Linked DNA regions of Homo sapiens. The protein of the gene in region 2 purifies or fractionates together with the protein of the main gene of each other region. This does not show direct contact. Each region holds a gene or a part of one and is shown on either strand. Other genes may lie near its edges.

Region 1 (4,403 bases), on a different chromosome or scaffold from region 2:
TCCCAGGGGAGGGTGCCTGGGCAACGGGCTGTGTGTACGCTGGTCTCCGAGGCAAGAGGACCCCCAGGCCACTGTTAGAGACTAAGTTTCCCTGTCACTGTCCTTACAGGAGAGGATGGACTTGGTGCCCTCCAGTATTAGTGACAAGCATTTTTCTCATTGCAACGTAATAAACCAGTTTTCTGGTCGTAGACATCATTCACCTAGCACTTGTGCTAGGTGCTAGGGCACCCCACGTTTGACCAGCTGTGTCTGCCCTGAGAGAGGGGGCTGGCAGGGGGGGTGTTGACCCCAAAAGGCTGGGTAACGGAGAGGGGCCAGAAGGAACACCACCGGGTGAGAAGGGCCACCCCGAACAGACCGGTCCTCAGAGGCACCTGCCGGCCCTCCCCAGACAGCAGCCCTCCCTTTCAGCCTGCCCTGGCAGCTGCCTTTCCTACGGCTTCCACGAATTAAAGAACACACTCTGGTCATCATCTGTCCTCAAGGCAGGTAGGAATCCAAAAGGGAGAGCCGGGAGGTGGCGCGGAGGACGCCGGCTCTGCCCACGCCTGGGCAAGGTTGAGCTCCGTTCCCTCCGGGCTGCTCCCGCCTCCTGTCCGTGCAGGGCGCGTTTCCAGCCATCGCCGCCCAGCCGCCGCCGCACGCCGGGGAGAGATCGTCCGGGGTGAGCAGCGAGCCCGGGGACAGCTAGCCTGGGTCCTGTCCCTGGACCTACTCCCCCTGCAGCTGGCGGATCAGGCCCCCGGACCCTCACTCCACGGCGGGAATCAGAGCCGTCGGGCGGGGGATGCAGCGCCCAGACTGTGGCTCCCCCGCCTTCCCAAAGGAATCCCCCCATCTGCTCCATCCCTCTCGGGAAACGGCGAAATGCTGCCAACCGTCCGCTTAGCGCACCGCGGAGCGACTGAGCAGCCCCGCCGAGGCTCCGAGCCAAGATTTCTGCCCTAATAGTTTCTCCCTTCTTTCTGTCTGCTCCACCGCACCCACTAAATACGCGGCGCTCACACACGGACACGCGTGACACGCGGCGCTCACACACAGGCATGGGACGCTCACACGCGCGCGCGCGGGTCTCCGTCCCTGGCACCCCGCAGCAGGGGTGCAGCCGGGGGCAGGGGGAGCCGGGGGAGGGCGCAGGGGGCCGCGGGGACGCGAGCGGAGGGCTGGATGCCTGCCGGGCTCTCTCTCCGCCTTCCTCTTCCCTCCCAGTCCTGCCGAGCTGACGGCGTCCCGGATCACATGGAGCCCCCGCCCCACCCCAGCCCGCCCCCCGCCGCCAACGCCGGTGGCCCTTCCAGTCGCGTTACTACCCAGAGATTCATTTGTACCAGGGACGGAGGGAGAGAGGAGAGGGAGGAGGGGACACACACACACACACACACACACACACACACACACACACACACAGAGAGAGAGAGAGAGAGAGAGAGAGAGAGAGAGATTGTTCCAGCTGCTCTCGCTAGAGAAAGGGAGTGACCCAAGGGGCCGCGAGTGAAGGGACAGGATGGCTTAGGTACCTCTGCCCACAGGACCCCACAACAGGGAGAGGTTCCAGCTACAGCTCCTCCGTGGGGTCATGGCAGGGGCTGGGGAGTCCCCTCAAAAGCCCTGAGCCCCCCTGCACCGCCGCTAAGGGACACCCCAGAAGTTAGCATCAGTGGGACTCGGAAGCTCCGATCTCAACAAGTAAGTTGTCTTCTTTTCCTCCTCCATTTCTCCCCCAGCTCGCGGGTTCTGGAGGGCAGGATGACACCCTCAGGTGTCCATCACCTGGGCAGCAGGCTTTCACAGGGAACCTGCTAGACTGGGAGCCAGGGGGGATAAGGAAAAGCTTAGGGCAGGTCCAAGTTTAGGAAATTGGAGATCTCCGTGGCTGCAGGCTGCCCTGTGCGTTGGGAGCCCAGCCATAAACACCTTCACTTCTGGCACTAGACCAGGGCTACCTGGGGGTGCCCCAGATCTCCCAGCAGTGGTTTGAGAGGCAACAGTGGCCAGGAGTGGGTGGGGTGTGGAGGACATTTTTCACCTGGTAGGACTCTTCCTTCAAATGGGAGCAGGGAGGGCCAGGATGGGGGGCGGTGCCCCCCTCAGCCTTAGATCCCCAGCCTAATCTTGCTTTCTCTTTTAAGTGTGGCCAAACTGGAAACACGGCCTTGTGATTTCTGCCCCCCTCGCTGCCCAAGTCACTTCCTGCGTACCTCCCTATCTCCTTTTAAAGAGCTTTCAAATGGTTCAGAAAGGCCAGGGGTCAAGCCTGTGAGGACAGAGGATAGGGAACAGAGAAGGCCGGCCTTGTCATTGCTCCCCTTCTCTTCAAGTCAGTGCTTCTCCCTGCAGAGCTGTTGGCCCCCTGGTTTTATCTGTGCCTTCCCTCAAACAGGGCTCTCCAACCCCAGGGGCTGTGGAGGGCCTCAGGTCCGGCCCCCAAAGTTCTAGGGCCTACCCTGAACATCAGGGTGAGCAACACCAGCCCAAAACCTGTTCCAGGAGCCTTTTCAAACACCAGAAGAAGATCAACAGGAACACGCCAAGTATTTTACTCTGTTTCAATCCTTTTAATAAGCTGAGATTATCATCCTCATTCTACAGGTGAAAAATTGAAGCCCAGAGAGGCTGTGCAATTTGCCTCAGGTGCACAGCTCATAAAGGGAGATTCTCTCCTATATCTGACTCCAAAATGTGCCTCGTTTTCATCAAAAGCCATATGGTTTATCGGGCTTTCTGGTTCTCAAAGCACTTTTCCATGTGAGGAAAAGGCTAATATTTATGAAACCAAGGTGCCGAGCTATATACGTTTACATGAGTTCATCTTGACACCAGTCCTGTGGGGCAGAGCTTATTTCTTCTGTTTTATAGATGAGAGTAAGGGTAACAGAATTCCAGGCACTAAGTGGCAGCAGCACTGCTATCTCCAAAACTCTTGTCCTCTGGCTTTAAATCCAGGGTCTTTCCACTAACAAAAGCTAATTCTGAAAGCTGCTCTTGTCTTTCCACATCCCTGCTTTTCCTCAAAGCCAGGTGTAAATTGCATCATCTGGCTGAATGAGGCGCTCAGGCTTCCTGGAATCTGAGGAACGAACAGGGCAGAGCAAATGATGTGGGAGTTAGAGGCCCATGGTTGGACTCTGGCATAAAGAGTTTGGTCAGCTTGGCTGGTATTTTAAACTATCTATGGACCCCACCTGAGATGGCACCATTCTGCCTAGAGGCATAAGGCCTTCAGTGGGAGGCCTGGGGCACAGCGTATGTGCTTCTTGGAAGAGCAGCAGCAGGGCCACCATTGAAAGACAGGAAACAACACATAGAGAAATTGCTGGCTCAGGAGGCTGAGGTAAGGGGATTACTTGAGCCCAGGAGTTCAAGACCAACTGGGGCAACATAGCAAGACCCCATCTCAAAAAAAAAAGAAATAAAAAAGAAAAAGAAAGGATAGAAAATTTGCCTATACATTCCACAAAGCACAAGGATTGTCCCCAGAACAACGTTCTAGACCTACTACCTAGCTCTCCAACAGAAAGGGAACCAGCCACTCAGGCATGGCTGTTTTCTGGCCTCTCCAAAAGCTGCTATAAACTGCCGGCATTACTCACAGGCAGCATTTTTTAAGTAGCCTGCCTGTGCTCTATCCAGTGAGCAGTTCAGCTAAAGGAGGAGCCAAGGGTGAGGGGGGGGGTCAAAGCGAACCTGGGCCACATTCACTCTGCCCAGGGCTGTCCCCAAAGCTTAGCTGTCTTCTCTGGGATGAAGTCAGATCTTAGTGGGGTTCCCCACCATGGCTTCCCTGGAGTCTGCTGGCAAGTCCTGAGCAGTGCAGAGCTCTTTGTCTGTGGGTCCAGCAGAGACACGTGTGTGGCCCTGTCACAGCAGTACTCAGCCTCGCTGTCCCTGGTGCCAAGCAAAATCCCTTTGGGGCTTTCTGCAAGCACCTGACTGGGTTTCTTGTCCAGGAATTTGGGAGACTCTGAAGGCTGCTCTAGTCATCCGTGATGAAGTAAACCCCCAAGGAGGGAAGAAACGACTAGAATGCCCATTCTCTGGTTTCCATTTCCCCTTCAAATGACCTGATTCTTCCTGCCTGCGGTGGGCGAAGCCACAAACAGGTGTCCTGTGCTTTCATGTACTTGAAAACTGCATCCACTTCTGCATTGTTTTTTTTTTTTTTCTTGTTCAACAACCATTCATTTGGTCACCTATCATGTGCCAGCAATCATTAATTTTTGAAAACCTTGGAATGTGATCGTTGGGGCAGCGTTATGCTTTTTGTTTAGGAGAATGTTAGCAAACACTCACATTTTCTGAGCCAATACTGATTGACTATTTAGGCTGGAGGTGGAAGGATGGTGGAGAGAAGGCAGGGGTCAGGGAATCCATAGGTAGTTCAAAGGGGCCATTTTTGGATG
Region 2 (3,815 bases):
TTAGGTTTGGTGTTAACTGTTTAACATGCATTATCTTATTCAATCCTCACAGCAGTTATAAAATGTAGGTGTTTTAGAGGTAAGCATATTATAGGTCAGGAGAGTTCAAAGAGTTAAACTACCAAAAGGGGATCTGAACCCAATTTCTGAATCTAGTGTTAATGATCTTACTATCCCAAACTCCTACTCCTGAACATTCTTAATCAATGATCAACAGCTTATCACTTGGCAGCTTTGAGCTCAACCCTGGTAACCAAGTCATACTATACTGAACATAATGAAGCAATAGAAGCAAAAAAAAAAAATTGATATTCTGGTTAGCCTTTGAAAATTTCGATAGCTTGATATATAAATCTCAGAAAAAGACACTCAGAAAAATGAGAAAAGGAATATGAATAGAGAACTTTATACACAGCCCAAATACTGAATAAACACAAAGTTTTAAAGGTCAAACTTAATGAAGAAATGGAGGTTGTTAAAATTACGATGCTATTTTTAATTTATGTATTTCTAGCAAAGAGAAGAAACACAGCTTGTGGGAGTATAAAATAAAGTCTTTATAAAAGAAGGGTTGGCAGAATGTGTTGGAAATGTTGTATATCTTTATAACTTTCTAGGCCCAGCATGGTGGCTCATGCATATAATGCCAAAACTTTGGGAGGCCAAGGAGGGAGGACCACTTGAGCCCAAGAGTTTGAGACCAGCCTGGGCAACATAGTGGTACCGTATCTGTACAAAAAAATTTAAAAATTAGCCAGGTGTGGAGGCATGCACCTGGAGTCCCAGCTACTGAGGCTGGAGTATCTATTGAGCATAGGAGGTCGAGGCTGCGGTGAGCCATGTTAATGCCACTGCACTCCAGCCTGGGCTACAGAGTGAGATCTTAGATCTTTTCTCAAATAAATAAAGTACAAGCAATAAATAACTTTCTACATACTGTATAGCAAATAACTAAAAAGGCAAGCAGGTACATAAAGATAGACGTTTGTTATACTTTTTATACTGCCAAAAGTTGGAAGTAACTTAATTGCAGAGTAGGAAATTTTTAAATAGGTTGTATATATAGTAGGATATTTTGCAACTATTAAAAATCATGTGGACTAGTATTACATGGGAAAAAAAGCAGATTATAAACAGCATATATAGTATATTTTATAAAACTACATGTTAAAAATGTACTTTACACATAAAGAACAAAAATGTATGGGAGGCCGTTTGTTTTAGACTGACCTGCACTAGGCACCAGCAGACCAGACAGAATTAGAATGGAGGCCCTTGTGCTGAGTGCCACATAATCAAACTGAACTTTGAATTTGAACTGAAATGAGCCAGTTTTCTAAAAAAAAAAAAAAAAAAGAGAGAGATTTCAGTCAACCTGAGTTAGTGAAATAAGACAGCCCTCTCTGTTTTAACCTGTAAAGAAAGTTTTCAACTTTAAAACAACCAATCTACTTTTTGTCCCTTATTTCTGCTTTCTTTAAACCTTTTCTGCCTAGAAGGCTAACCTCCTCTGCTTAGCTCATTAGAAGACCCATTTTATAGAATGAGCTGTTGCCCATTCCTAGAATCACAAATAAAAGTCAATTCGAACCTTAAATTTGTGCTAATTTTTTCTTTTGTTAACACCAACACTGGCTATTTCTTTGTGATGGGTAAAAGATAGTTTTTACCTCTTATTTCTATATTTTTCAAATTGTATGAGTAAACATTTTTTAAGCTTTTGTGATTTGAAAAAAACTTTCTTGAAGGTGAACTAAAGAAACAACTTTAAGACCTGTTACTAACCATGGATCTCTAATGATTGGAACAAAGATAGAAAACCATGACTCTAGAATAGAAAACTCTCTCTTCAACCCATGAAATAAATGCTTTGGACAGCCGAAGACTAGATTCCTCAGATGGTGGAGCAGAGTCTTATTTAAATCTTTTTCCTTGCTGAATGACTTACAAATAATACTGGGTATAAAAGGAGAAAATGGGAACATGAATTGAGCTTAAGGAATCAAATTTTAATGAATTTTTTCTAATTCAGGAAACATTTATCAAAGCCAGGATCTGAGGATAAAAGGCAGGAAATAACGGAGGGAGTTCAAACATCTTTGAATTAAATTACTTTAATAAATAATGTATATATACGATGAAGGCACAGAATCATAATAGCAAACACGCCATGCTTTCAATGTACCAAGCCCTGTTCTAAGTACTATGCACCGATTAACTTACTCTCTAGAGTAAGCCTTGGGGTAGAGACTGTTACCAACATATTAATAGCATGGAGGTAAACAGCTAGAACTCTGGAGCTGGCTTCCTGAGTTAGAATCTCGAATCCACCAATTACTAGCTGTATGATCATGGGCAAGCTGCATATACTCTTCACTGTTTTCTATAAAAATGTGGACAATCCTAGATCCATGTAGAATTGTGCTGAAGATTGTAAATCATTTAGAACAGCACATAGTGGTGTTAATAATGTTTTAAAAGCCCCGGAATATTAAAGCTAAGGAAATTAAAGTACAGAGATTACTTGTAATTTACCCCAAGTCACAGTGAGTGGGTGGAAGAGCCAGATCATGCTCTTAGTGGTTATCATAAATTGTGGAGGAAGACCCAAAGCAAAGCATCTTGGGAGGAGACTGGTGAGCTGTCTTGCTGGATGATAAAAACTTATCAAGATAAAGAATGGTATGGTAAGGGAGGAGCTCAGCACAGGAATGAGGCATGAAATAGAATGGTGTACATGGGGCAGTGTGGGTAGTTAGGTATGGTTGGGACTTTGAGTGAGTGGGAAGGTTCATAATGATAATTAAGGCTGGAGAGATGGGCAGGAGCCAGGCATGGAGGAACTTGTACTAAATAATACCTGTTTTACCTTGTGAATGGTAAGGATATAGGTAGAGTAGAACTGAAGGCAGGGAGATCAGTGAGCAAGCTATTGCAATAGTATTAGAGATTTGGGGAGCCTAACCCAGGATTACTAGAGATAGGATTGGAAAAGGGGAGATTTGAGGAATATCATAGGAGGTGACATTTACAAAGTTGATTCTGATTTGGGAAGTTAGTGGTGTCAATAATAGAGAATACAATGAAAAATGCTTTTTTGGTGAAGAATGCTGAGTTTAGAAAAATTATGGCAGGCAGTTGGAAATTTGATGAATCTGAAGTTAGGGTGAAAAATCAGGACTAAAGATAAAGATCAGGGAGTTAAATCATGACAACTAGCACATCTGTCCCTGCTTCTGGTAGATATGGGTACAAGACCAGAGATATTAAGTGATTTAGAATAAGGTCACAGAGTTAAGTACCACAGTCATATTCAATACAATTAACCCAAACCATGTTGTCTTTGGATTTTGTCAATGTTGTCAAAATTTTGACAACTTTTGAAATTTTGTCGATTTCAAAAATGGAAAATACATAATATGCCAGGCACTTGCTGGGCAATACAGATACCTGCAGTAATGGAGTGAGCACCAGCATCTTCCCTGATGGCGTGTGCAGTGAGGTGACTCGTCTGTAGTGTCCTCAAGGTCACGTAGAGAGCATACAGTAAATACTTGTTGACTCTTTCAAACTTAAGTTAATGATACAGTCAGGACTGATAGCCATTTTGTTGTCTTTCTTGAAAGTTTACGTGGAAGGCAGACCTTGTGTATGCTTTTCAAAGGGGCTCATTTAGCGCACTTGGCGCTTAAGAATTTGAGATCAGTGTGATGGTCCTAATCTTTTTTTAAAAGTATTGGAAGTTTGAACTCACCTGATGGGGTTGGTTTTTTTTTTTTTTTTTTTTTTTTCCAAAAAAATAATCATTCAAAATA

What was found.
Region 1: the proteins of LONRF1 (region 2) and KCNJ5 purify together in Homo sapiens (affinity purification with mass spectrometry; 2 studies listed by BioGRID and IntAct, with this or other methods). This does not show direct contact.

Annotation. Positions count from the first base shown.
Region 1 is NC_000011.10:128,890,033-128,894,435, forward strand, and holds the start of KCNJ5 (G protein-activated inward rectifier potassium channel 4), read left to right. Parts: upstream 1-1,323; 5' UTR 1,324-1,689; intron 1,690-4,403. UniProt on the Homo sapiens protein: Inward rectifier potassium channels are characterized by a greater tendency to allow potassium to flow into the cell rather than out of it.
Region 2 is NC_000008.11:12,745,298-12,749,112, reverse strand, and holds part of LONRF1 (LON peptidase N-terminal domain and RING finger protein 1), read left to right. Parts: intron 1-3,815.